Homo sapiens: one gene and its partners. The main gene of each other region encodes a partner of the protein of the gene in region 4 in a complex. Each region holds a gene or a part of one and is shown on either strand. Other genes may lie near its edges.

Region 1 (9,524 bases), on a different chromosome or scaffold from region 4:
AATAGGATGGTGATTACCAGGAGCTGCAGAAGAGGGGGGAATAGGGGAGTTGTTTTGTTTCAAAAATGTGTTTACTTTGCAAAAATTTTAGTTTTGCAACATGAAAATGGTTGTGGAGATTGGTTGCACAATGTAAATGTACTTAACACTATTGAACAATACAGTTTTAAACAGTTAAGATGGTAAATGTGTATTTTACCACAATTAAAAGGCTTATTTATTTATTTTTATTTATTTATTTTGAGACAGAGTCTCGCTCTGTCACCCAGGCTGGAGTGCAATGGTGCAATCTCGGCTCACTGCAACCTCCACCTCCTGGGTTCAAGTGATTCTCGTGCCTCAGCCTCCCGAGTAGCTGGGACTACAGGCGCTCGCCACCACGTTCAGCTGATTTTTTTTGTAGTTTTAGGAGGGATGGGGTTTCACCATGTTGGCCAGGCTTGTCTCGAACTCCTGACCTCAAGTGATCTGCCTGCCTCGGCCTCCCAAAGTGCTGGGAATCCAGGCATGAGCCACTGCACCGGGCCTTTTTTTTTTTTTTTTAGAGGTGCAGTCTTACTTTGTTGCCCAGGCTGGAGTGCAGGGTGCCATCATAGCTCACTGCAGCCTGGACTTCCTGCACTCAAGGCATCCTCCGGCTTCAGCCTCCAAAGTAGCCGGGATGGCCAGGCGCGGCCATACATGGCAAAACCCCATCTCTACTAATTAGCTGGGCGTGGCGGCAGGTGCCTTCAATCCCAGCTACTTGGGAGGCTGAGGCAGGAGAATCACTTGAACCCAGGAGGCAGAGGTTGTGGTGAGGAGAGATCACACCATTGCACTCCAGCCTGGGCAACAAGAGTGAAACTCTGTCTCAAAACAACAACAACAACAAAAATGAAGTAGCCGGGACCGCCGGCTGTGTGCCATACTTGGCTTAAAAGCATTTTGTTTTTGAGACAGGGTCTCACTCAGTTGCCCAGGCTGGAGTGCAGTGGCACAATCACAGCTCACTGTAGCCTCCAACTCTCAACCTAAGCGATCCTCCCACCTCCGCCACCAGAGTAGCTGGGACTACAGGGGCATGCCACCACACCCAGCTAATTTTTTGTATTTTTTGTAGTGATGGGGTTTCATCATGTTGTCCAGGCTGCTCTCAAACTCCTGGATTCAAGCAATCTGCCCGCCTTGGCCTCACAAAGTGCTGGGATTACAGGTGTGAGCCACTGTGCCCAGCCCCATATTCTATTGGTTAGAAGCAAATTACAAAAACTAGCCATACTGAAGGGAAGGAGAATTAGGCTCCACTTACTGAAAGGGGGCTGCCCAAGCATTTGTGGATATATTTTAAAACAGCTTCAGGCCGGGCACAGTGGCTCACACCTGTAATCCCAGCACTTTGGGAGGCTGAGTCAGGTGGATCACTTGAGGTCAGGAGTTCAAGACCAGCCTGGCCAACATGGTGAAACCCCGTCTCTACTAAAAATACAAAAATTACCCGGGTGTGGTGGCACATGCCTGTAATCCCAGCTACTTGGGAGGCTGAGGCAGGAGAATTGCTTGAGCCTGGGAGGCAGAAGTTGCTGTGAGCCCTGGCCCACAGAACGAGACTCTGTCTCAAAAAAACCCAATAACCACCCCCCCCAAAAAAAAGGTGACAGGTTTTCACTCTGTCACCCAGGCTGAAGTACCTTGGCATGATCACAGCTCACTGCAGCCTCAAACTCCTGGGCTCAAGGGATCCTCCTGCCTCAGCCTCCTAAGTAGATGGGACTGCAGACATGTGTCACCATGCCCTGCTATTTTTTTTTTAAACGTTTTCGTAGAAATGAGGGTCTCACTACGTTGCCTAGTCTGGTCCAGAACTCCTGGCCTCAAGTGATCCTGTTGCTGTGGCCTCTCAATGTGCTGGGATTACAGACAGCCATGAACCACCAGGCCTGGCCAACTTTCGATAATGTGGTTAGATAATTCAAACTTAAAGCTGTTGGAACTTTAAATTATTCCAAGCCTTGAGAGGAATGTTGCTATGTAGCCTGAGTCACGTAGCATGCAGTTACAACTTCTGCTTTTTCCTGTAAATGATTAAGAATGACCAAGCAGTGCCAGAGATAAGATCACCTCAGAACATTACTCCTAGGCCGGGTGTTGTGGCCTCACATCTGTAACCCCAGCACTTTGGGAGGCAGAGGTGGATCACTTGAGCCCAGGAGTTTGAGACAAGCCTGGGCAACAGAGTGAGACCATGTCTCTACAGAAAAAATTATTGAAAAATTAGCTGGGCATGGTGGCACACGCCTGTAGTCCCAGCTACTGGGGAGGCTTAGGCAGGAGGCTTGAGCCTGGGCGTTCGAGGCTGCAGTGAGCTGTGATTGTGCCACTGCACTCCAGCCTGGGTAACAGAGCAAGATCTGTTTGTTGTTGTTTTGTTTTGTTTTTGAGACTTTGTCTCACTCTTGTCCCCCAGGATGGAGTGCAATGGCACGATCTCAGATCACTGCAACCTCCGCCTCCCAGGTTCAAGTGATTCTCCTGCCTCAGCCTCCCGAGTACTTGGGATTACAGGCGCCCGCCGCCATGCCCAGCTAATTTTTGTATTTTTAGTAGACACGAGGTTTCATCATGTTGGCCAGGCTGGTCTTGAACCCCTGACCTCGTGATTTGCCCGCCTCAACCTCCCAAAGTGCTGGGATTACAGGCGTGAGCCACCGCGCCCAGCCCCAGAGCAAGATCTTATCTCAAGAAAAAAGAAAGGAGAAAGAAAGAAAGAAAGAGTACTCCTCCTCCTATCAGAATGTTAACGCAATCTTCCCTGCAGCATAGCAAGATGTACTAATGAAACTGTTGTAACATATGTACTGGTCCTGTAGCCTGGAATAAACTCTATAGTTAATCATATTTTCCTTTCTTTTCTTTTTTTTCTTTTTTGAGAGTAGAAGTCTGGCTCTGTCGCCCAGGCTGAAGTGCGGTGGCGTGATCTCGGCTCACTGCAACTGCTGCCTCCCAGGTTCAAGTGATGCTCCTGCCTCAGCTTCCCAAATAGCTGACACCACAGGCATGTGCCACCACACCCATCTAGTTTTGGTATTTTTTAGTAGAGACAGGGTTTCGCTATATGTTGGCCAGGCTGGTCTCGAACTCCTGACCTCAGGGTATCCACTCTCCTTGGCCTCCCAAAGTGCTGGGATTACGGGCATGAACCACCGAATCCGGCCTCAATCATATTTTCTGAATCTCATTATTTATAGTTGACGATAATTTATTTTCTTTTATTTAACATGTATACATGGGAGCCTTCAGAATGAAGACCTCAGCCGGGAGCAGTGGCTCATGCCTGTAATCTCAGCACTTTGGGAGGCCAAGGTGGGCAGATCACCTGAGGTCAGGAGTTTGAGACCTGCCTGGCCAACATGGCGAAACCCCGTCTCTACTAAAAATACAAAAATGAGGCAGGAGGTGCCAGCCAGGTTGTGGAGAGCCTTGTCATGCATGATAAGACTTTGGCTTTTACCCTGAGTGAAATGGGGACCACTGGACGGGTCTGAGCAGATGGGACCTGACTTAGGTGTTCACAGGGTTCCAGCTGCATGTGGGGTGCAAACTAGAGGGGTTGGCAAAGGGGACCCCAGAGACAAGGTCCCTGTCATAGTCCAGGTGATAGATGAACTTGGACAGATCAAGGTGCAGGGCGACAAAGAGGTGAGAAGTGGGATTTAGGGTGTATTTCAAAAGTAGAGGCAGTAAGATTTCCTGATGGACAAAATGGGGGCTTGAGAAAAGAGAATGCAAGGCTGGTGCCACCACTAGGGGACCAGGGGCCCCAAGAGCTGAAAGGTTAGAGCTGTCTACCTCACCCACACAGCATCCAGAAATAAATAAATAAATAAATACATTTTCCCCAGCTCCAGCTTAAAGGACAGAAAGATCATTTAAAAGTGAAACCTCTGCCAGGTGCAGAGGCTCACTCCAGCCTGGGCAACAGAGCAAGATTCTGTCTCAAAAAAAAAAAAAAAAAAAAGTAAATAAATAAAATAAAAAAGAAAATACAAAAAGTAGCTGGGCCCAGGCGAGGTGGCTCATGCCTGTAATCCCAGCACTTTGGGAGGCTGAGGCAGAAGGATCACATGAGGCCAGGAGTTCGAGACCAGCCTGACCAACATGGTGGAACTCCATCTCTACTAAAAGCACAAACATTAGCTAGATATAGTGGTGGGTGCCTGCAATCCCAGCTACTAAGGAGGCTGAGACAGAAGAATTGCTTGAACCTGGGAGGCGGAGGTTGTGGTGAGCAGAGATCATGCCACTGCACTCCAGCCTGGGCGACAGAGGGAGACTCTGTCAAAAAAAAAAAAAAAAAAAAAAACCCGGCCGGTCACGGTGGCTAACGCCTGTAATCCCAGCACTTTGGGAGGCTGAGGCGGGTGGACCACCTGAGGTCAGGAGTTTGAGACCGGTCTGGCCAATATGGTGAAAACCCGTCTCTACTAAAAATACAAAAATTAGCTGGGTGTGGTGGTGCACGCCTGTAGTCCCAGCTACTCGGGAGGCTGAGGCAGGAGAATCTCTTGAACCCGGGAGGCAGAGATTGCAGTGAGCTGGGATCGCACCACTGCACTCCAGCCTGGATGACAGGGGGAGACGCCATCTCAAAAAGTAAAAAACCAAAATTATAACGAGGGTACAACATTTCAATAGGATAACATTTATATTAAACAATTCAATGGAATACTTCACTAGTTGATATATGCATTATTAATGGGGTCTCCCTATATTCGAACTTCTGGCCTCAAGAGCTCTTCCCGCCTCAGCCTTCCAAAGGGCTGGGATTACAGTTATGAGCCACCGCGCCTAGCCAATGGTAGCTTGTAAATACTTTGTATCTATTGGCCTGGCTGGGTGGCTCACGCCTGTAATCCCGGCAGTTTGGGAGGGAGAACTGGGAGGATAGCTAGAGCCCAGGAGGTCAAGACAAGACTGGGCAACATAGCAACATAGCAGGACTCCATCTCTTAAAAAAAAAAAAAAGAATTAGCCAGCCGTGGTGGTGCATGTCTGTGATACCAGCTACATGGGAGGCTGAGGTAGGAGGATCCCTTGAACCCAGGAGTTAAGAGGCTGCAATGAGCTGTGATCGAGCCACCGTACTCCAGCCTGGGTGACAGAGTGAGACCCTTTTAAGGAGCCTTGATGGGACCTGATGACTGGCTTGATGTGGGAAATGATGGCATCTAGGATGGCATCCAGGGACAACATCTCCATTTCTTGATTGATAAATCAATCAATAGGAAAGAGGATTTTCTGCAAATAAGGGAATCTTAGTTCCTCATTTCTCTTCGCTACCCCAACCGCTCCTTGCTCAGAATCAAGCAGTAACAGTGAACTTGGTAGTAGCTCCGAGAAGGAAGTTGGACTTATCCAACTTCCTTCCTTCCTTGTCCTTGAGAAACCTAGGGGAACTCTAAAACGGAAGCAGAACCCACTCCCCAACTTCTCCACTCTCTGAATGAGGAGTGATTTTTTTGCTTTGTTTTCCAGTTACAAGGCCGGGGATGTACACGAGGTCCTGGAAGGAATTCCCCCTTGGTCCTGGTTCAATCTCTGATTTGTGATCCCGGACCACAGAGAGCTCTTCGGTGGGGTAGGCGCAGCACGGAGCAGTTAGGGATTTGCTTTTTTGGTAAAGAAGGTATCTGGGAGAAACTGCACTCAAACTTCCTCAGCCACACTCAACATGGCAGCTTCCTAGCCACGCCCAAAATGGCGGAACCCTTTGCCGTAGCTGGAGAGACGCTATTTTCCCAAAATGGAGCGGAGGAGGAAAATGTCCATCACAGCTTCACCCCGCCCCCCGCAGACGGCTAGCACCAATTAGTAGCGCGCAGAGCGAGTACAAAGCTAGGGGAGGAGCCTGCTGTTGCCCCAGCAACAACCACGGAAACCAAGACGAGCGCGGTCGCGGAAGTATCGCGGCTTACATATCTCGCAGCCAGGCGGGTCCTGGGAGAGGCGCGAGCCAGGCCTGGTCGGCGCCCGCGGAGAAAAGAAGCAGTCAAGCCCATGAACTACAACCCCGGTTGCCGCTTTCTCCTCTCCTAACCGTTAAGTGCGCTAAGGTAGGAATGACGCATGCGCTGCGCTTAGAGGCGGGGTTAAGTCGGACCTGAACTCATAACGCATGCGCCTTATGGAGCTTGCTGGGGGAGGGAAGCGGGGTGGCTGGCGTGACGCGGAAGGCGGGTCTTTTGCGCTCGTGGGCGGAGCCATAGCCCCTTCGGGCGGGGCTTTCCGCCGACCTGAACCCGAAAAGGTTATTTTGGACTTCCCAGAGTTAAATGCTGGTTCCCCAGACAAGGGTCCCCCCATTTTTTCCAGGCTTTCATGGGTTGGCAATTAGGATCTGTGGTCAAGACCTCAGCCTCAGGGGTGTGACGAAGCTAGCTTGGAATCCTAGTACTACCCTTTACTTGCTGGGCCTCAGTTTCCCCCCCGTCAAATGGAGATAATACACTTACCTCACAGGGTTGTGATTATATTTTTCCCCTCCCAGGGCCATGGCTGAGGTGCACGTGATCGGGCAGATCATAGGGGCCAGCGGTTTCTCGGAAAGTAGCCTCTTCTGCAAGTGGGGCATTCACACAGGTATTCCCCCAAGCCTGGTTCATTTCCACACCAAGACCCCTAGCCTAGAGGCTACATGCTCCTTCCTCCACCCCTTAACGCAGACTCTTAACCTCATTTCCATCAGTTCTCAGTACTCCAGGCCCAGCCCACACCCTGTCCACATGAGTCTCAAGCTCCCATCTTTGTGTGTGTGAGGGGTGGGATACAGACAGGGTCTCTCTCTGCGCCCGGGCTGGAGTAAGGTGGTGTGATCATAGCTCAGTGCAGCCTCGAACTCTCGGGCTCTAGTGATCCTCCCGCCTCAGCCTCCTGAGAAGCTGGGACTACAGACACGCACCACCAAATCTGGCTAATTTTTTTTATTTTTTGTAGAGACAGGGTCTCGCTATGTTGCCCAGGCTGGTCTCGAACTCCTGCGCTCAAACAGGCCACCCACTTCAGCCTCTCAAAGTGCTAGGATTAAAAACGTGAGCCGCCACGTCCCAGGAAAGTAATTTTGTTCATGCTTCCCCAACTGAGGCCCTATAGAGTCATGGTATAGTGTAATGGTTAGGGTCATGGGCTGCCAGATCTGCATTTAAATATTAACTCCCCCACCTATTAATTGGAGACCTTTGGACTCGACCACTTTGAGCCTCAGTTTCCTTGTTTCAAAGTGAAGCTAATAGTAGCTAAGAAGCAGCACAGGTTTGAGGTTAAGAGCACAGACTGCCTGGGTTCAAAACCAGTTATTGCTTGTTAAGGCACCCTTGGGCTGATTATGTGAACTTGGGCACTTCTCTTCACCTCGACTTCCTTGTTTGTACAATGAGAGTCATAGAAATATTTACCTGTTGAAGTTGTCATGAGTACTAAACGAGTATCAACAGCACTTAGAATAGGAATAGGGCTGGAATAGGAAGTGCTCATTCAGTGTTTGCCTGGCTTATACAAGACTTTGATGGGGTCTTGTTTGTAAAGCCTGGGGTATGTTGTTGCGTGGCACAGATGAATGTCTATGAAACAGATGTGGCCATTTGGCATTATCATGTCTTCAGGCCTGAGTCCTAGTCCCTTTTTTTTTTTTTTTTTTTTTTTTGAGACTCGTTCTGTTTCCCAGGCTGTAGTGCAGTGGTGCAATCTAGCTCAGCCTTCCAGGTTCATGCCATTCTCCTGCCTCAGCCTCCTGCATAGCTGGGACTACAGGCGCTCGCCACCATGCCCGGCTATTTTTTTTTTTTTTGTATTTTTAGTAGAGATGGGGTTTCACTGTGTTAGCCAGGATGGTCTCGATCTCCTGACCTTGTGATCTGCCCATCTCGGCCTCCCAAAGTGCTGGGATTACAGGCGTGAGCCACTGCGCCTGGCCCTTTTTTTTTTTTTTTTTTTTTTGAGACAGAGTCTCACTCTGTAGCCAAGCTAGAGTGCAGTGGCACGATCTCGGCTCACTGCAATCTCTGCCTCCTGGGTTCAAGCGATTCTCCTATGTCAGCCTCCCGAGTGGCTGGGACTACAGGCACCCGCTACCATACCCAGCTAATTTTTGTATTTTTAGTAGAGATGGGGTTTCACCATGTCGGCCAGGCTGGTCTTGAACTCCTGGCCTTAAGTGATCCGCCTGCGTAGGCCTTCCAAAGTGCTGGGATTACAGGCGTGAGCCACTGCGCCTGGCCCTTTTTTTTTTGAGACAGAGTCTCACTCTGTAGCCAAGCTAGAGTGCAGTGGCACGATCTCGGCTCACTGCAATCTCTGCCTCCTGGGTTCAAGCGATTCTCCTATGTCAGCCTCCCGAGTGGCTGGGACTACAGGCACCCGCTACCATACCCAGCTAATTTTTGTATTTTTAGTAGAGATGGGGTTTCACCATGTCGGCCAGGCTGGTCTCGAACTCCTGGCCTTAAGTGATCCGCCTGCGTAGGCCTTCCAAAGTGCTGGGATTACAGGTGTGAGCCACTGCGCCTGGCCCCTGGGTCCTTTTTGATTCTACAGGTAAGTGAGGTGGAAGTTGAAATTCCCAGGAAATCGGAACCCTCCAGCTGATGGATGAGGGGCAGGCTCTGGAGTCAGACTTGGTTTCCAGGTTGGACCACTCACCTTCTCTGTGACCCTGGGCAGAGGCTGTCCCCTCTTGGAGCCTCAGTTTCCTCATTTGTTCTTCATAGGGCTGTTGGGAAATCTTGCTTTTAAGGAGCCTGACGCAGGGCCTGGTGCTTCCCTCAACTCAGCCCAGAAGGGAGTAATGACTAACCTGATTTTTATTATTTCAGGGAGTTGCTGGGGATGTTGATCCAGCCAAGAATACTGAGGCAGTTGGATGAAAGGCTTGGGCTCTGCAGTTAGAGCTGAGTCTGAATCCAGTCCCATGATGGGACCTTGGTCTGCTATAGTCACTGCTATGTCACCAGCATGGAAAACAGTGCTTGGCACATAGCAGGTGCTGAATAAATGTTCATGAACTCACCTTCTCAGAGCCTGTTTCTTTACCTGTTAAATGGGGATTATATTAGCTCCCACCTCCTAGGATCACTTATTTGTCCAAGAAACATTTATTGAGCACCTTCTGTATACCAAGAGCTGGGTTTGTGGTCTTGGGGATCCAGCAGTGTGCAAGGTCCCTGTTTTCCTGGGCCATACAGTAGGGGAGACAGAAAATAAATAAGCAGGCCAGGCGCGGTGGCTCATGCCTGTAATCCCAGCACTTTGGGAGTCCGAGGCGGGCAGATCACCTGAGGTCAGGAGTTTGAGACCAGCCTGGCTAACATGGTAAAACCCCATTTCTACTAAAAATACAAAAAAAATTAGCTGGGCATGGCGGCGTGTGCCTGTAATCCCAGCTACTCGAGAGGCTGAGGCAGGAGAATCGCTTGAACCCAGGAGGCGGAGGTTGCAGTGAGCCGAGATGGTGCCATTGCACTCCAGCTTGGGCAACAAGAGCAAAAGTCTGT
Region 2 (5,009 bases), on a different chromosome or scaffold from region 4:
TTGGATGAAGTTGATTCCAACTCTCAATGGATGTCTTTGTAGGGTTCCAGACTTTAGTGGAGGAAGTCACTGCAGATGTGGTGAAAATAGAACCAGAATTAGAAATAGAGCCTGAAGATCTGACTGAACTGCTGCAACCTCATGATAAAACTTGAATGGATATAGAGTTGCTTCTTATGGATGAGCAAAGAATATTTGTTTCTTGGTCGGGCGCGGTGGCTCACTCTTGTAATCCCGGCACTTTGGGAGGCGGAGGCAGGAAGATTGCTTGTGTCCAGGAGCTCAAGACCAGCCTAGACAACATAGTGAGACCCTGTCTCTACAAAAAATAAAAGATTAGCTGAGTGTGGTGGCGTGTACCTGTAGTCCCAGCTACTTGAGAGACTGAGGTGTGAGGATTGCTTGAGCCTAGGAGGTTGAGGCTGCAGTGAACCATAATCACACCACTGCACTCCGCCTGGACGACAGAGCAAGACCCTGTCTCAAAAAAGTTTATTGAGATGGACTCTACTCCTGGCGAAGATGCTGTGAACATTTGTCAAATGACAACAAAGGATTTAGAATATTACATAAACTTAATTGATAAAGCAGTGGCAGAGTTTGAGAAGATTAATTCCAGTTTTGAAAGAGATTCTGTGGGTAAGATGCTATCAGCATTTCATGCTACAGAGAAATCTTTCATGAAAGGAAGAGTCAGTCAATGCAACAAACTTCATTGTTGTCTTATTTTAAGAAATTCTCACAGCCACCCCAACCATCAGCAACCACCAGTTGCTAATCAGCCAGCAACATCGAGGCAAGACCCTCCATCAGCAAAAAATTACAACTTACTGCAGGCTCAGATGATCATTAGCACTTTTGAACAATAAAGTATTTTTAAATTAAAGGTATGTACATTTTTGAGATAATGCTTTTGCACGCTTAATACACTATAATACAGTGTAAACATAACTTTGCACTGGGAAACCAAAAAAATTGGTGTGACTCATTTTATTGCAGTATTCACTTTATTGCAATGGTCTGGAACCAAGTGCACACTATCTCCGAGGTATGCCTGTACATGCAAACCTGTGGAAGATGAAGTAATCTTGCAGTCTTGGATATTTATTTGTTTTGTTTATTTGGAGAGAGGAGGAGGAGTAGCAATAAAAACTGGTAAACATTCAGTTCAGGCAAATTGTCTTAGTGTTTTCTAAAGATGAAGAATCATTTGATGGAATATAACTCACTACTGCTTTTTATTTCAACTAATATTTGAATTAAACACAGCAAAGGAGGAGGAACTCTAAAGGCTCTAATGATGCTCTCTTTAAAGCTTTACCTTGCTCTAAGGTAAAACTTGTTAAGTTTCTCTCACTTTCATTCCATTGCTGTTAATATTTGCCCAAGCAAAAGGTAAGTAAGTACAAAGGAATAGAGGCAGGAAGCTCATAATATATCGTACTGTGGGTAGTCTCAATTGAATTTCAGGGTCAAGTAGCAGACACAAGGCAGACTGCTAAATAGAACACTTTGCACAGTTTGAAAACAGTTGATAATTTTATTATTTGCCAATAATATGTTCTTCTGATGTGATGCATATAATTTAAAATTTTCTCATATCCTAAGTGTAGTTTTTACATGATACAGAAAGTACAGTGAAAAAAATTACCTGTTGCGTATAAGAGAGGCAACATAGATCCAAACAGACAAAACATTTTTGGGGTATGGGTGTATGTATACAGCTAAAGCAAATTCAACATTAGGAACATCAATATTATGTACTCCAGTACTATACACAGCGTCAATTAAAGGCTTCACTTCAGAATAAGGCATGTGAAGAGGAAATCCAGAGAACTGAAGGGAAAAAACATTTGTAGTCATTAGTGAAGTTTGAAGATTTAATACATTTTTTCCTACGTAAATGTATGCAATTAAGATAAGTGTTCTGGATCTCAGTTATTTGCTTGTGTTTTTCTACTCAGCTTTTTATTAGCAATACAGAAAATCGAGAGCTGCTTAATATCCATTTTGTTTTCCTTGCATATAGGTGTATAAGCCACCTGTTAGTCACTCCATCACTGTTCCCTCTTTTTGAAAGTACCTAGTATGCATCGTAACCATTGTAATTCCAGATACATAGGTTAAACTAACAAATACATTTCTTTTTTCTTTTTTTTTTTTTTTTTTGAGACAGGTCTGACTGTTGTCCATGCTAGACTGCAGTGGCATGATCATGGCTCACCACTGCAGCCTCGGCCTCCTGCTGGGCTCAAATGGTCCCCCCACTTTAGCCTCCTGAGTAGCTGGGACTGCAGGCAAGTGCCACCATCCTGGCTACTTTTTGTATTTTTTGTAGAGATGGAGTTTTGCCATGCTGCCAAGGCTGATCTTGAACTCCAGGGCTCAAGCGATCCGCTGCCTCAGCCTCCCAAAGTGCTGGGGTTACAGGTGTGAGCCATAGCGCCCGACAATAATTTTCGTCCCCTTGGCTACAATGATTGATCCACGGGGATGGGCAAGTGATCAAAGGGAGTCTCAGAGGGAATCTTGGGAAACTTGTTAGGAATAATGGCACGTGATGTTCTCCTGCTTTGGGTAGTATGTGCGCAGATGTGAATTCTGTAAGTGTTCCAGCATTTGCTTCCATGAGGAAACCCAGTCTCAGGATGATGCCATCATACGGAAGAGGAGGGCAGAATGGGAGGACTTGCAAAAGAGTGGGACAGCCCTGATAGCTACCCTCTAAGCTTTACTTAAGCCAGTAGATTCTCTATTGCTCAAGCCTTTTTGAGTTTTCTGACACTTGAACTGAAAATATCCTGGCTGAGAACCTGCCTTATAAGTTAAAGGATAAATTTTACTCAGTGAGTGATCTAATTTGACCTTCACACTGTTTAGCTAGTAAGGCTTACTGTTAAGTTTTAGTTACGAGCCTGCTTTGTAGGTTTTATTATCCAGCTATAGCATGTGAACATAGCAGCAGGCAGTAAAGAGGGTATATCGTCTATTAATAACCACCTTTCTTAGCAATGAAAAGCAATCAGTATAAAACCATATCCTTAAAAAAACTGCTCTAGAGTGTTTTGATCCTTATGCACAGTTGTGTCTAACATGATTTAGCCAGATGTTTTCATTTTTTTGATACGTAAATGTATTTCATAAAAGGTATTTTTCATGGGATACTTATATGAAAAATGGTGGTATTTTGCTATTTCATGATTATTGAGGTTTAAAACTTATGATCACAGTTTTTAGTTTATGCTGCTTTAAATATGTACTTCTGGGAGCAACGTGGGTCTTTTGATTCCAGAAACCTATTATTGGCTAATTTCCAATTTGAAACAAGGAAATCCACAGTCAGTTTAGGATCCATTTGTAACTTACCCTGTAGTCTCCCAGCTGTTTTAGCAGTTCTGCTCTGTGGTCATCTTCTACATCTTCTCCTTGACTTTTTTCTAACAGAGGCAAGAAGTGACGCAGAGTAGAGGTACAATACCTATTCCACCGAGTCAGATGGCGTGGCCTCCAGTCCATGATTTTTTCTTTTAGTATTTTTTCAATCCTGTTCACAAAACATAAATTCCATTTTTTGGTGACTCACTTTTCCCTTGTTAAAAAATGTATGTAGTATGTAGTGGGGATTCAGATGATTGTATAACTATATTTTTGTTGATGGAGTTGTGATTATCCAGGCATAGTTAATGTCTAATAATGGGCTACTCCCTGGGGATTCAAAATTAACATGCAGTCCTGTCCTTAAGGGTTGTATATGAGTTGAGATGGGAAATAGTCCTATAAATAGAAAGTATGTGTATCCTAAGAGCTATAACAGATGCTTGAAATGTAACACAGAAGAGGGAGTACTGAATGACTTGGGGATAGCTGAATTCAATACATGCAGCAAAAGTTTATTATTACTAATTTTTTTTAAAGGCAGGATCTTGCTCTGTTGCCCAGGCTGGATTGAAGTGGTACAATCACAGCTCACTGCATCCTCAACTCTCGGGCTCAAGTGAACCTCCCACCTCAGCCTCTTTGGTAGCTGGGACCACAGGTGCATGCCATTATGTCTGGCTAATTTTTTTTTCTTTTTTATAGAGACAAGGTCTTGCTATGTTGCCCAGGCTGGTCTCAAATTCTTGGGCTCAAGTGATCCGCCTGCCTTGGCCTCCCAAAGTGTTGAGATTACAAGTGTGAGTCACTGCGCTTGGCCATGAAATGTTTTTTTGAAATGTTATGACTATACTCATTGGTAGTATATATACAGACAGATGAATTAGACACAGGCGTAAGAAGTAGGGCTTATGTTGAAAGCCTCAAATATTTGTGGAGCTCTTAGTGCCTCGTGATTTATTCACATCATGAATAGTGAATTCTATCCATGATGATTAATTTTTTTCTAAATTGCCTTAAAACTGCCTTTAAAATACCAACATCATTGAAACTGTTTGTGATAAGTACAGGTATTGGGTTCATAGGGTGTGAAGTTTAAGCATGGAATGAAGGAAGATAGCTACTATTTATTGGGCCATTATTTACCAGATACTGCGCTAAGTGCTTTTTGTAGATGTTTATTTAATCTCAATAATAACCTTACGAGGTAGGGGATATTGTCCTGATTTTACAGATGAGGGGACAGTTTGAGGTAGGATAAGTGATTTGACTAAGGCAAAGGAGCTTGGATTCAAATTGAAACCCTGCTGATTCTAAAGCCTCTTGTACATTGCCTAACTAAATGCATGGGTTTAGAGACCTAGCTAGCTTCTCATTGTTCAGTAGTCATAGGGATCATTTCTTTTTTGGTGCTTAGCACATCTTTGTTTTGGATTTCAAGATGGTCTGCGCACGAAAGTATGGACGAATTGTCAGGCATTTTAATATTGGAGAAATAAATGACTTGGGTCCAATCGATAGCATGTTGAAGCTATCAGAAAAAAACAAAAAGGTTGTTTGGAGATTAGTTGTTCTAGTTGGGGATCTTGAATAAGGCATTATGGAGAAATTGAGAGTAAATGAGTGTAAACCGA
Region 3 (5,598 bases), on a different chromosome or scaffold from region 4:
GGGCTGGAGTGCAGTGGCACCATCTCGGCTCACTGCAGCCTCCGCCTCCCGGGTTCAAGCAATTCTCCTGCCTCAGCCTCCTGAGTAGCTGGGACTGCAGGCGCCTGCCACCATGCCCGGCAAGTTTTTATATTTTTAGTAGAGATAGAGTTTCACCATGTTGGCTAGGATGGTCTCGATCTCCTGACCTCATGATCCACCCGCCTTGGCCTCCCAAAGTGCTGGGATTATAGGTGTGAGCCATCACACCTGGCCAGATTTTGTTTTTTAAACATTTATTTATTTGAGACAGGGTCTCATTCTGTCACCTAGGCTGTAGTACAGTGGTACGATCATAGCTCACAGCAGCCTTGAAGCCCTGGGCTCAAGCAGTCCTCCAACTTCAGCCTCCTGAGTAGCTGGGACCACAGGTGTGCGACATCATACCTGGCTAATTTTGTGTTTTTTGTAGAGACAGTGTCTTGCCTTGTTGCCCAGGCTGGTCTGAAGCTCCTGGCCTCAAGCAATCTTCCTGCCTTGGCCTCCCCAAGGTGCTGGGATTACAGGCGTGAGCCAACATGCCTGGCCTGTAGGACAAGTTTTATAACCCCAGAAATACAGAGCAAAACCCTTATTTGTTAGAATATGTCATCCCTGAAATCAACGTTAAAGCACAAACTTAGGAACAAAATTACTTGCAACATATAAGAAAGGATAAAAGAAGGCTCACATAAATCACTAAGGAAAAAACAAAATAACTTTAAAAATTGGCTGGGCGCAGTGGCTCACGTCTGTAATCCCAGCACTTTGGGAGGCCGAGGTGGGTGGATCATTTGAGGTGAAGAGTTTGAGACCAGCTTGGCCAACATGGTGGCCGTCTCTACTAAAAATACAAAAATTAGCTGGGTGTGGTGGCGCGCACCTGTAATCCCAGCTACTTGGGAGGCTGAGGCAGTAGAATCGCTTGAACCCAGGAGGCAGAGGTTGCAGTGAGCCAAGATCGCCCACTGCACTCTAGCCTGGGCGACAAAGTGAGACTCAAAAAAAAAAAAAAATTGGTAAGGGACATTAATGGCAGTTCATGTAAAAATAATTACAGAGAACCAGTAAAACTTGACAAGATGCTCAAACTCGCTAATAAAAATCAAATTGAAACAAAGTAACATTTTTTACCCATCAGACTGGCAAAGAAAGATTTATAACACCCAGTATTAGGGTGTGGGGAACAGGTTGTTATACACTTTTGTGGTAATTTAATTTAGTACAACTCTTGGGTAGTAGTTATTACTGTGTAATGTTTTACTGTTAGCCCCAACAATTTCACTTCTAAAACTAGATTAAAAAAAAATTCCACAGATATGCGAAGATAGCTATATGAGAATGTTTATTGCCAAAAATTTGGTAACATCAAAACACTGTAAACAAACTAAACATCTGTCCATACGGGATTGTTAAATCAGTTACGGCACTGATTCAACGGACTTGTATATAACCATTAAAAAAGAACAGTTGCTGGGCATGGTGGCTCACGCCTGTAATCCCAGCACTTTGGGAGGCTGGGGCAGGCAGATCACGAGTTCAGGAGATCGAGACCATCCTGGCCCACATGATGAAACCCCATCTCTACTAAAAATACAAAAATTAGCTGGGTGTGGTGGCACGTGCCTGTAATCCCAGCTACTCGGGAGGGTGAGGCAGGAGAATCACTTGAGCCCGGGAGGCGGAAGTTGCAGTGAGCCGAGATTGCACCACTGCACTCTAGCCTGGCGAGAGAGCTAGACTCTGTCTCAAAAAATTAAAAAAAATTAAAAAGAACAGTTAAGGCCAGGTGCAGTGGCTCACGCCTGTAATCTTAGCACTGTGGGAGGCCGAGGCGAACGGATTGCCTGAGGTCAGGAGTTCGTGACCAGCCTGGCTAACATGGTGAAATCCTGTCTCTACTAAAAAATACGAAAATCAGCTGGGCATGGTGGCGGGCACCTGTAATCCCAGCTACTTGGGAGGCTGAGGCAGGATAATCGCTTGTACCTGGGAGGTGGAGGTTGAAGTGAGCCGAGATCGCTCCATTGCACTCCAGCCTGGGTGACAAGAAACTCCGTCTCAATAAAAAAAAAAAAAAATTAGCTGGGCATAGTGACGTGTACCTATAGTGGGAAGATCCCTTCAGCCCAGGGGTTCGAGGCTGCAGTGAGCTATGATGATGCAATTGCACTCCAGCCTGGGTGACAGAATTAAACACTATCAAAAAAAAAAAAAAATTAAGGTAGCTATGTGTGTGGAAAAATGTTTGTGGGGGAAAAATAAGTTGCAAAACAGGATGTAGGGTATGCTTCTATTTTTATAATAATAAATAGTAATATGTGAATATATACGTATAAAAAATCTGAAACAATACACGTCATTCTCTAATAATCTTCAGGGTGTAGGGACATGGAGGTCTTTCACTTTCTATAGTCTCAAAAATTATTTTCTGTGTTGAAATTTTTTTTTTTTTTTGAGACGGAGTCTTGCTTTGTTCCCCAGGCTGGAGTGCAGTGGCGTGACCTCTGCTCACTGCAAGCTCCACCTTCCGGGTTCACACCATTCTCCTGCCTCAGCCTCCCGAGTAGCTGGGACTACAGGCGCCCGCCACCACGCCCGGCTACTTTTTTTGTATTTTTAGTAGAGATGGGGTTTCACCGTGTTAGCCAGGATGGTCTCCATCTCCTGACCTTGTGATCCACCTGCCTTGGCCTCCCAAAGCGCTGGGATTACAGGTGTGAGCCACTGCACCCGGCCATTGAAAATTTTTAAATGATTATATATTATTTTTATAATTAAAAATTTTGTTTTTCCCAAATAAAGATCCCATTGTCCCTTGAGTGGGAACCAGACTGGAAGCAGGACCTCTGGATTAAGTGACTTTAATCTTGTAGCTCTCCTAAGCCTCAAACTTTTAGTACAGTGGGACCCCATTTATAAATCTGCACACCCCCACTCAGGATTATTTTTTGTGCCTTGCCATTCCATCACATCTCCCACGCCTTTCCCCTGGGCCAGGAAAAGCAGACCATTTGGAGATGACTCCATGGGCTGTGTCTGACAGGTACAAAGGGAAACCTCTGCCAGCGAAAGATGCCGCTCAGTATTAGCGTGGCCTTGACCTTCCCATCTGCCATGATGGCCTCCTATTACCTGCTGCTGCAGACCTACGTACTCCGCCTGGAAGCCATCATGAATGGCATCTTGCTCTTCTTCTGTGGCTCAGAGCTTTTACTTGAGGTGCTCACCTTGGCTGCTTTCTCCAGGTACTGCTGCTGAGGGACCATTTCTCATCACTAGAGGGTTGGGTTCCCATCCCAGGGAGGGATTCAGTATTCTTCTGAAGCCTAAGGGGTCTAGAAGACTTTTTTCTAGAGGGAGGAAGGGGTGGCTATGGGATTGCCTTTCCTGTTTAGGGTAGGTAGATCGTTTCCCACTCAGGGAAGATACTCTCCCTATCCTTTGGGGCCAGGAGGCTTGGAATATAGAACAGTCGAGGCCAGCTGCTCTCATTCACTGGTCTTTTAACATTTTCTTTCTTTCTGCCATCGTATGGACAGGATTTGAAGTACAGAATTTCAGCCAGCAGCCCATCAGGCTGACACCACACATATTGCTTCTGGTACTTTAGCCACACCAGTGAGAATTGGTGGGGCAAGTTGTCCTGAGAAAGGCTGTGTGGCTTTTCTTCAGCACAGACATTTGGGCAAGCAACTCAGCATAAGGCCAGTGGGTACCATCTTCTAAACCAGGACCATCAGCCCAAGAGACTCTTCTACACTCCAGTATAGGGAGGGGCAAGGTTATTCCCATCCTGCCCCTTCTCAGAACCAGTCCCCTGCTGACCTCAAGTTCTCCTCCTTGATCACCGTGGCCAGAGCATCTCGTGTGGACCATCTAGGCTCCTTGGGCTTCAAGCAGGACCTGAGCCACATGCTCCCTGTACGAGCTGTGCTATACCTGTCCCACATGAGCACGGAGAGCCTCATGTTGGTGGGTTTCCAGAGTGATGTGAAAGCCTCTCACCCCAATCCTCGGAGACTGAGTTCCACAACTTTTTTAGTAGCTCATAGTGTTATTTTTCTACTCTCTTCATGAAACTAACTTTATTTTATAATAAATATGTATTTTCTGTTGTGGGGGTTGCAGCCTTTCCTTATGGCACCTGTCCCTAGAATTCATCCACTCCAAGAGAGGGTCATGACTATCCCAGCAGTTTGTTCTCAGGAGCTTTGCTTAGTGATACAGTGTGGACAAAAGGCAGTGATGACCACTGATTTTCTTCCCCAAGCTGCAGCCTAAATTAAACCCTAAATGCACTGCCATCCTCTGTATCTTCAAGTCTCTCGTCATGCAAAAGACTGCTTATTTGCTTCACTCTGCCCCAAAGTCAGCATCTTGTCTCACTCCTCTTACAGATAATTGTTAGCTTTTTTCCAGTGGGCCATGTGAAACTGGAAGAAGCATATTCTAAACTAACTTTTTTTTTTTTTTTAATTTTGGAGACAGTGTCTCAGTCTGTCATCCAGGCTGCAGTGCAGTGGCATGATCTTGGCTCACTGCAACCTCTGCCTCCCTAGCTCACGTGATCCTCCCACATCAGCCTCTCAAGTAGCTGGGACTACAGGCACACACCACCATGCCTGGCTTTTTTTTTTTTTTTTTGAGACGGAGTCTCGCTCTGTCACCTAGACTGGAGTACAGTGGCATGATCTCGGCTCACTGCAACCTCCGCCTCCTGGGTTCAAGTGATTCTTCTGCCTCAGCCTCCCGAGTAGCTGGGAATACAGGTGTGCACCACCATGCCGGGCTAATTTTTTTTTGTATTTTTAGTAGAGACGGGGTTTCACCATGCTGGCCAGGCTGGTCTCAAACTCCTGACCTCGTGGTCTGCCTGCTGGCCTACCAAAGTGCTGGGATTACAGGCATGAGCCACCGTGCCCAGCCCACTAATTTTTGTATTTATTGTAGAGATGGGGTCTTTGTTGCTCAGGCTGGTCTGTAACTCCTGGGCTCAAGCGATCCTCCCGCCTCTACCTCCTAATGTGCTCGGATTATAGGTGTGAGCCACTGCAACCAGCTGATGTTTTTTTTTTTTTTTTTTTGGTCATTTATTTTAGTATTTTGAGGCCTGGCACAGTGGCTTACACTTGTGATCCCAACATTTTGGGAGGCTGAAGCAGGAGGATTGCATGATTCCAGGAATTTGTGACCAGCCTGGGTAATATGGTGAGAACCTTGTCTCTACAAAAAATTTAAAAACAAGCCAGGTGTGGTGATGCGCACCTGTAGTCCCAGCTATTCAGGAGGCTGTGGCAGGAGGATAGCTTGAGCCCAGGAGGTCAAGACTGTAGTGAGCTATGTTTGTACCACTGTACTCCAGCCTGTGCAGGAGTGAGACCCTGTCTCAAAAATAAAATTTTGAGTCAACATAAAAGGAACACTTTTTTTTTTTTTTAAGCTGGAGAACTGTCACTCTAGATCAATGTATACTTTCTTTCTCCAAGTAAGCATCTTTAAAATTATTCCTCATTTCCTTGGTAGTGGCCATGTTTTTTAATTCCAAGAAGCCACGAGGAGCCATGACGGAATCCACTT
Region 4 (9,195 bases):
AGAAAAATATAGGCAAAATAAATTGATTCAGGGATTCCTAAAACTTCTTTACATCCTCATCCTTTTGAGTAACACTTTAACTCAGTCAACAACCCATACTTTTCTATGCAACTTTGTCCTTTGTGCCATCAAACATGTTGGTGATACAGCATTAAAAGAAAAACAAAAACAAAAAACAAAAATTCAGCTGGGCATGGTGGCTCATGCCTATAGTCCCAGCACTTTGGGAGGCCGAGGCAGGCAGATCACTTGAGCTCAGGAGTTCGAGACCAGCCTGGCCAACATGGTAAAACCTCATCTATACTAAAAATACAAAAATGAGCCAGGCGTAGTGGCAGGAGCCTGTAATCCAGCTCCTTCGGAGGCTGAGGCAGGAGAATCTCTTGAACCTGGGGGGCGGAGGCTGCAGTGAGCCAAGATTGCGCCACTGAACTCCAGTCTGGGTGACAGAGTGAGACCCTGTCTCAAAACAAACAAACAAACAAACAAACAATTCATAAAAGAAACTAAAAGCCATTGGTCTGGGCCCTTAAGCAGACTTTGAAATTATGGAGAGCTTTCCTGTTTTTAAAAGCCTCTCAAACTTTCCCTTACTTGCTCTCCATTCAATTCAGGGGTTAAAAAAATGTTCTACTACTGTCTCTGGGGTTTCCTCTGAGGTTGCTGATGCCCCTTCTTTTTAATTGCATTTTTATTTTTCTAACACCTACCTCTTACACAGAAATGATGCCCCTTCTGCATGTTTTGATGCCGGCACAGGTGTAAGCAATGAGAACTATGCCATACCTGCCTCCTTGCCAACAGTTGATAACCACAGACAGGAAGACACTGATTTCAGGGATGAGAAGAAACAGGTGTCTTAGAAACACGGTACTCTCCACTCATCCTCTGGAATCCTTCTATAACCTTCAGTCCCTGTATTCTCTGGGTCCACACATGCCTTCAAGAGCTATGTCAGCCTCCTTGAGGCTTGAGGGGGAAAAAGTCACTCTGCTTTTCTCTTCTCTCATTAAAAACAACAAAAACTAGACTTCCAAAGCATTAAACATGTAGGGAGCTTAGAGACGCTGTCCAGGATGAGCTGACCAAAGCAGAAGCAAGGCTGTTTGTGACTTCAGCATTTCCCCCAATTAGCCACTGCAAAGCCACCTCCCAGCACTTGGTCCAACCTTAATCAACAACCACTGTTTCCTTTGCCTTCTGGACAGTTTCCTGGATAGACTGACGTCAGTCTGGCTCTATGTTCAAAGTTAGAAAATAAAAGTAGTTTGTTGCAATAAGGGCTAAGATTTTAAGATATAGCATAAGAAATACTGAGTTCCAGTCCAGACTCTGTTCACTTCAAAGCAGTGGCTCACACCTGTAATCACACCTGTAATCCCAGCTCTTTGAAAGGCTGAGGTGAGTGTATTACCAGAGTTGAGGAGTTCTAGACCAGCCTGGCCAACATGGTGAAACCCTGTTTCCACTAAAAAACACAAAAAAGTTAGCCCGGAGTGGTGGTGCATGCCTGCAGTCCCAGCTACTTGGAAGGCTGAGGCGAGAGGATTGCTTGAACCCAGAAGGCAGAGGTTGCAGTGAGCTGAGATTGTGCCACTGCATTCCAGCCTGGCTGACAGAGTGAAACTCTGTTGCAAAAAAAAAAAAAAAAAAGAAAAGAAGAAAAGCTAGGGCAAATTGTACCACTTCTCTATTTCTTTTTAATTTTTTATTTTTTTGAAATGTGGGGTCTTGCTATGTTGCCCACACTGGCCTTGAACTCCTGGGCTCAAGCAATCCTCCTGCCTCAGCCTTCCAAAGTGCTAGGATTACAGGTGTGAGCTATCATTTCTGGCGGCAAATATTTTTATCTCATTTACCTGATCATTTAGAAATGTATCTCCAGGTCTTGAGATAACATTTGCATTGAAAATTCTCAGTTTCTCAGTTTTAGGCATTCTCTATTGAGTTCCCACAAGGAAAGATGATTTAGCTTCTTCTCTCCCCCAATTCCTCCCACCATCCCCTATCACATACCCAATACCTTTCTCATTACCCCCAATAGAGTTAAAATCTCTTTTTAGTAAACATTCAGTGTTCATATAATTAAGACTATGTCAATCCTATTCACAACTCTGATAACATTTTGGTTCTCAGTTTTCCTTACTTTTCATTTCCCTGCAGTTAATAATTATTTGCTTAGTTTTCTATGTACTTATACCATTTCATCAAAGAGCTGCTATTCCAATTCCTCAAAATTTGATGTTTAAAGGCATAAGATTTAGTCAAAACCTTGTTCATTGAAATATTGTCCCTAGGCCGGGCACAGTGGCTGACACCTATGATCCCAGCAGTTTGGGAGACCAAGGCGGGTGGATCACCTGAGGTCAGGAGTTCGAGACCAGCCTGGCCAACATAGTGAAACCCCTTCTCTACTAAAAATCCAAAAATTAGCCTGTAATCCCAGCTACTCGGGAGGCTAAGGCACGAGAATTGCTTGAACCCAGGAGGCAGAGTTGCAGTGAGCAGAGAATTGCAGCACTGCACTCCAGCCTGGGCAACAGAACAAGACTGTGTCTCAAAAAAAAAAAAAAAAAAGAAAAGAAAAGAAAAAAGAAAAGAAAAAAAGAAATGTTGTCCCTAATAGTGAAAAAGTCAAAGCAAACCTCAAAAAGAATACAGCTGATTAATAAGTATTGATACATATACAAAACTGAGCCTTCAATTTCTGTCATTATATCTACCTGTAACTCTATCATATTTTAGAATGAGCATGCACTTTTGTAATCAGAATATAAGAACATTTATAAAGTAATAGGAGAAAAGTAACCTGAATCATATTAGGTTGGTGCAAAAGTAATTCCGGTTTTTTGTCATTACTTTTAATGGCAAAAGCCGCAATGACTTTTGCATCAACCTATTACTATTTTTTTTGCAGTTATTTATACGACCAATCGGATTTTTAAAAACAATTTTATTTAGTTGCTGGGAACAAGTCTGATTTTCTTTTCTCCTCAGCTATACAAGGTTGGCTTGTAGGGCAATCATCTTAGATATGTCTGAAGAGATTCGAATTTGAAAGAAGGAAAACCAGAAGTTTCATACTTCTAAAGGAAAACGTTTTCAGAAAATGAGTGAAAAGGAGTGACTACAAAGGAAGCATTCGCTTATCTCAAAGCAAATACTAAATTACAGATTCCTCTCAGCGCTCTACTGGTGAAAAAATTTAAAAATAAATAAATAAATTACAGACAGTAACATGCTTCCATTTCATCCCGACAGCTTCAGGATGGCGCAGTCTCCAATGGGACAAACCCAGGGAGGCGTGACTCGGCCACAGCGCGTTCTGGGAAGGCCGCTTAACCAATCAGCGCCTTGGTTTCCAGGGGTCAGGTCTGCATAAAAATGCTGCCCTTTCCGTTCCTATAGTGGTGTGATGCAGAAACGCCGCGACAGAATGGGGTTATCTACATTAACAGCGCGCGGCCTTCCAGGCTCCTAAATGGACTTTCACAAACACCCTCCATCAGGCCAGGCCCGCGGGTGTGACCCGGGCAGACACAGGCTGCCCCCACACTTCTGGACTCTGTGTCAGGGCGCACACGCTGACAGCATGGCTAACTTTCTGGGGGCCGGGGACATCTGGGAGAAGCAGAATGAAACAGAAGATCGATTCCCTAGGTCCTAGGAGATGAAACGCCACCTTTGCGGGTTCGCGAGTCCTTAGGATCAAAGCTGGGCTCCCCAGGGCCGGGGCCGCTCGCCCCACATCCTCATTCCAGTCCCCATCCCCACCCTATCCCCGACTCTGCCCCAGGCCCAGGCGGGAACCACGCACCGAAACGAGCGGGACGCGCAGGCGATCCCCTTGCAGCCGGTTGAAGGCGGGGAACGTGCTCCAGGCGAGGAACCCGTCGCTTTCGGGTCCGAGCAGGGCCACGAGCAGCACCTGGTGTTGGAAGCGCACGGTCGGCTGCTCCTCGTAGCTGCTCCGCTTCAGCCAAAACCCTGAGTTAAAGAGGGCGGTAGGGAGGCGGTTAGGGAGGCCGGCCCTGGCCGAGCGCGCCCGGGGAGCCTCGTGGCACAGCGGCCGGGGCAGGCTCACCGTGGCTCCGGAAGGCCACCAGCAGCGGCGGGATGTACGTGAGCGCAGCGGCCAGCAGCAGGAACAGCGCGGCTTTGGAGCAGAGCCCCGCGCGGTAACTGCGCTCGACCGGGTGAGAGAAGAGCTCATAGAGCGCCATGAGCACCGCTCGCAGGCACTCCGCGAGCCGGGGGACCAAGTTTGGCTTCTCCTGGTTGCCATCGCCTCGGTCTCCACGGCAACCGACGGCTCACAGAAAGGAGCCAATAGCAAGGCCGCACCGAAAGGAGCCAGTGGCGGGGGCGGGGTTAGCGGGCGTGGCGCTGCCGGGGACGGTCGGCCTAGCTTTTCGAGCTGTGTACGTTTGCGTAAAGGCTGGGCGGCGATAGAACGTTTCCGTGGACCAGAGTCGTGGCTGTTGTCTGTGTTAACATTTGTGTAAAATAAGATGCCCATAAAAGTTGACTTGAACACTGAGGAGGAAGAACTAAATATTTAAATTTCAACTGACATGGACACAAACAATGGTCACCAAGTCCCTAAACAGGTTGTGGGAGCCCCTTGAGGCGTTCATCCAGCGCTGTTTCGGAGAAATCTCTATTTCAGTCTACTCCTATACGTCAGTTATTGAAAAACAACAATCGCAAAAACAAGTTGACCTTTTTGTGTTCCTTGAGCCCAGTCGCAAAGGGCCCTCGTGACTGGGCCTCATGCTAGACAACATGTTACAAAAAGATCTAGGGTCCCAGACCACGCCAAAAAGCTTCATGAGACCTCTCCTCGTCTGTGCACTGACGAGTGGCCGGCTCTGGAGCCCAGGTCGTTGCTTCCCAGTCTGGAGGTGAATCCTCCATAGTCTGGTGAGTGTAAATATATATATATATATGTCTTTTTCCTTCTCCTCTTCCCATTGCAATTTGCTTATTATATCAATCTGCTTATTATATTAATTTGCTTATTATAATATCTGCATTGCCATTTACGTGGGATAAAGCTTGCTTACCCTTAAAGGTACTGTGTGTGTGCCTTTTCTTCTCCCCTAGCGCGTCTCCCGCACAGAACGAACACCTGCTTTTGTGTCATCTGTTAACCCCCAGTGTGGTTCCTACTGAAGTCCAGTCAGTCACAAGCCTGGCCGTGGTCCTGGACCTGGTCCTGGGCTGAGATCAAAGCCAGGTGCTTTTGCCCCCAGATTTTCTGTTGCTTCCACTATGCTCCCATGCAAGACAGACACGGAAACACAAATCCCCTGGCTCTTCCACGGATAGAGTGGAATTACTACAAAGCTCTGATGCACTTCGTTAACCCTGTGTTGGGTACAGCTCAGCCGCGAGTTTTACAGGAATATATGGTCCTCCCCAAAGATCACTGGCTTATTGCTTAATTGAATGCCTACACCCCCCCGCCACCACCCCCAACCAATATTTCTAACATGGTAGAAGGACTTTTTAAAAAAATCTATGGTCCACAGCCAATTTCTTCATCAAATGGCCCTGAATGGCTGGGCACGGTGGCTCACGCCTGTAATCCCAACACTTTGGGAGGCCAAGGTGGGCGGATCACCTGAGGTCAGGGGTTCAAGACCAGCCTGGCCAACATGGTGAACCCTCATCTCTACTAAAAATACAAAAATTAGCCAGGCATGGTGATGGGCACCTGTAATCCCAGCTACTCTGGAGGCTGAGGCAGGAGAATCGCTTGAACCCGGGAGGCACAGATTACAGTGAGCGGAGATCACACATTGGACTCCAGCCTGGGTGGCAGCGAGACTCCATCTCAAACAACAACAACAACAACAAAAAGGTCCTGAGTGGCTGAGCACAGTGGCTCATGCCTGTAGGTCCAGCTACTCGGGAGGCCTGGGCAGGAGGAAGGCTTGAGCCCAGGAGGCTGCAGTGAGCCATGAATGCACTACTGCACTCCAGGCTGGGAGACAGAAGGAGACCTTGTCTCTAAAAAAATAAATACAAAATATTTAAATATAAGTAAATTTGTTAAAGGGTCAGTAAAATGACATTTAAGTGGAAAGACATGATAAGCTTTGTGATTTGGAAAAGTCACTCTAATGACAGCATGTCAGTAGTGTAAACCAAAATGTATCTGAGACAAGTCTCAATCAACGTAGAAATTTATTTTGCCAAGGTTAAGGACATGCCTGTGACACAGCCTCAGGAGGTCCTGATGACATACGCCCAAGGTGGATAGGGTATAACTTGAGTTTATACATTTAGGGAGACATAAGACATCAATCAATACGTGTAAGATGTACATTGGTTCAGTACTGAAAGATGAGACAAGTGGAGGTGGGGTGGGGCTTCCAGACCACAGAATTGGCAGATTCAGAGATTTTTCCAATTGTCAACTGGTTATTATCTAAAGACCTGGAATCAATAGAAAGGAATGTGTGGGTTTGTGGGCGGGGCACAGTGGCTCACGCCTGTAATCCCAACACTTTGGGAGGCCAAGGCAGGCAGATCACTTGAGGTCAGGAGTTCAAGACCAGCCTGGCCAACATGGTGAAACCCTGTCTCTACCAAAAATATGTATTAAAAAAAAAAACATTAGCTGCATCTGGCGGTGTCCACCTGTAATCCCAGCTACTTGGGAGGCTGAGGCAGGAGAATTGCTTTAACCCGGGAGGCAGCAGCTGCAGTGAGCCGAGATCATACCACTGCACTTCAGCCTGGGTGACAAAGTGAGACTCCATTTCAAAAAAAAAACAAAAACAAAAAACAATAAGGGGTTGTGGAGTCTAATGTTTTATCATGCAGATGAAGCCTCCAGGCTTCAGAGAGAACAGATTGTAAATGTTTCTTATCAGACTTTAAGAGTCTGTTCTATTAATATCAGTCTTAAGATCTATGTGTTGATGCTAATACTGGTCAGCTGGGTCTGAATTCCAAAAAGAGGAGGGTATAATGAGTTACGTCTGACTCCCCACTTCCCATGATGGCCAGACTAGTTTTTCAGGTTAACTTTGGAATGCCCTTGGCTGAGACAAGGGTTCCATTCAGATGGTTGGGAGCTTAGAATTTTATTTTAGGTTTACAGTATACCAGGATGGGGTCATTGAGTGAGGGGTGAGGAAAAACAGAAGTCAGGGAGACCAGTCAAGAGGCTGTTGAGGCTGGGTGAAGTGGCTCATCTTAGCACTTTTGTCAGAGGTGTTTGAACCAAAGCAACTCCATCTCGAATAGGGGCTAAGTAAAATAAGGCTGGGACCTACTGAGCTGTCTTCCCAGGAGGTAAGGCATTCTTAGTCACAGTATGAGCTAGAAGGATGGCACAAGATACAGGTTACAGAGACCCTGTGGATAAAACAGGATGCAGTTAAAAAGAAGCCAGCCAAGGCCGGGCATGGTGGCTCATGCCTGGAACCCTGTCTCTACTAAAAATACAAAAATTAGCTGGGCATGGTGGCGGGCACCTGTAGTCTCAGCTACTCTGGAGGCTGAGGAGGGAGAATCAGTTGAACCCGGGAGGCGGAGGTTGTAGTGAGCCGAGATCACGCCATTGCACTCCAGCCTGGGTGATAAGAACGAAACTCTGTCTCAGAGAAAAAAAAAAAAAAGAAAGAAAAAAGAAAAAAAGCCAGTCAAAAGCCACCAAAACCAAGATGGCCTTGAGTGTGACCTCTGGTCGTCCTCACTGCTCATGATCTGCTCATTGTAATGCATTGGCATGCTAAACGATACTCCCACTGGTGCCATGACAATTTACAAATGCCACGGCAATGTCCGGAAGTTACCCTATATAGTCTAAAAAGGGGAGGGACCCTCAGTTCTGGGGAAATCTCTGCCCCTTTCCTGGAAAAGTCAGGAATAATCTACCCTTTGTTTACCATATGGATCAAGAAATAACTATAAATTTACTCAGTCGAGTAGCCCATACTGCTGCTCTGTCTATGGAGTAGCCATTTTTTTTTACTCTGTGGACTTGCCCCAAATTCTTTCCTGTGTTGAGAGCCAGGAACCCTTTCTTGGGATCTGGATTGGGACCCCTTTCCAGTAACACTTTGGGATGCTAAGAAAGGAGGATTGCTTGAGCCCAAGAGTTAGAGGTTGCAGTAAGCAGTGACTGCACTACTGCACTCTAGCCTGGGTGACAGAGCGAGAGCGAGACTGTCTGAAGAAAGGGAAAAAAAAAAAAAAGCCCTGAAGGATCACATTGCAGTGTCAGGAGATGGCGTGAGGTTTGTGCTGGGTGGAGTCCAGTAGTTACTCCCACTACTTTGAAAGCAACCTCGAAGTGGCTTTTAGATGAAGAGAACAGCTGACATCCTAACATCACAGACTTAATAGAGAGGTCAAGACTGCCCATTTGGGAAAACCATCCTAGGGTCCTTACTACAGTCCAAGACGACAACGTCATCAGCCACAAAATGCTTTTGAAATATCAGGTTCAATACTACTTGTTCTTGATTAAAAGCTTTTCTGGGGTGGCAATGTAGTTTGTTGTTGTTGTTGTTTTTATACAGGGTCTCCCTCTGTCTACCTCCTGGGCTCAAGTACTTGTCCTGCCTCAGCCTCCTGAATAGCTGAGGCCACTATTCCCGGCTAATTTTTAAAAAAATTTTTGGCTGAGGCAGGACAATCACTTGAACCCGGGAGGTAGAGGTTGCAGCGAGCTGAGATCGTGCCACTGCACTCCAGCCTAGGCGCTTCCATCTAAAAAAAAATTTTGTTTTTAAGTGACAAAGTCTTGTCATGTTGCCCAGGCTGGTCTCCAACTCCTGGGCTCAAGTATCCTTCTTGAGTAATCCCAAAGTGCTGGGATTACGGGTGTGAGCCACTGTATCTGGCCTCAACATAGGTTTTTGTTCGTTTTTGTTTTTTTGGTGGAGATGGGATTTCGCCATGTTGCCCAGGCTAGCAGGTTGATCTCATATTCTGGGGCTTAAGAGATCCACCTGCCTCGGCCTCCTGAAGTGCTGGGACCACCACACTGAGCCTCAACATAGTTCTTAAATATAGCAATTGTTAAGGTTAAATCTATGGTTTGATTCTGACACACTATATCTATGCTTTAAGTGGATGACTTTCTTTTTTTGAGAGAGAGAGTTTCACTGTTGTTGCCCAGGCTGGAGTGCAATGGTGTGATCTCGGCTCACTGCAACCTCAGCCTCCCAGGTT

The links.
Region 1: TMEM231 (region 4) and B9D2 share a complex: the UniProt entries of both Homo sapiens proteins name them as parts of the tectonic-like complex.
Region 2: TMEM231 (region 4) and CC2D2A share a complex: the UniProt entries of both Homo sapiens proteins name them as parts of the tectonic-like complex.
Region 3: TMEM231 (region 4) and TMEM216 share a complex: the UniProt entries of both Homo sapiens proteins name them as parts of the tectonic-like complex.

The regions. Positions count from the first base shown.
Region 1 is NC_000019.10:41,360,526-41,370,049, reverse strand, and holds the start of B9D2 (B9 domain-containing protein 2), read left to right. Parts: upstream 1-5,900; 5' UTR 5,901-6,092; exon of another isoform or gene 6,093-6,103; intron 6,104-6,124; exon of another isoform or gene 6,125-6,286; intron 6,287-6,526; 5' UTR 6,527-6,530; coding exon 6,531-6,618; intron 6,619-9,524. UniProt on the Homo sapiens protein: Component of the tectonic-like complex, a complex localized at the transition zone of primary cilia and acting as a barrier that prevents diffusion of transmembrane proteins between the cilia and plasma membranes.
Region 2 is NC_000004.12:15,598,064-15,603,072, reverse strand, and holds the end of CC2D2A (coiled-coil and C2 domain-containing protein 2A), read right to left. Parts: intron 3,545-5,009; coding exon 3,367-3,544; intron 1,837-3,366; coding exon 1,648-1,836; 3' UTR 1,521-1,647; downstream 1-1,520. UniProt on the Homo sapiens protein: Component of the tectonic-like complex, a complex localized at the transition zone of primary cilia and acting as a barrier that prevents diffusion of transmembrane proteins between the cilia and plasma membranes.
Region 3 is NC_000011.10:61,394,710-61,400,307, forward strand, and holds the end of TMEM216 (transmembrane protein 216), read left to right. Parts: intron 1-3,064; coding exon 3,065-3,266; intron 3,267-3,551; coding exon of another isoform or gene 3,552-3,560; coding exon 3,561-3,567; 3' UTR 3,568-4,137; downstream 4,138-5,598. UniProt on the Homo sapiens protein: Part of the tectonic-like complex which is required for tissue-specific ciliogenesis and may regulate ciliary membrane composition.
Region 4 is NC_000016.10:75,551,987-75,561,181, forward strand, and holds the start of TMEM231 (transmembrane protein 231), read right to left. Parts: upstream 4,224-9,195; coding exon 4,085-4,223; coding exon of another isoform or gene 3,988-4,084; coding exon 3,818-3,987; intron 1-3,817. UniProt on the Homo sapiens protein: Transmembrane component of the tectonic-like complex, a complex localized at the transition zone of primary cilia and acting as a barrier that prevents diffusion of transmembrane proteins between the cilia and plasma membranes.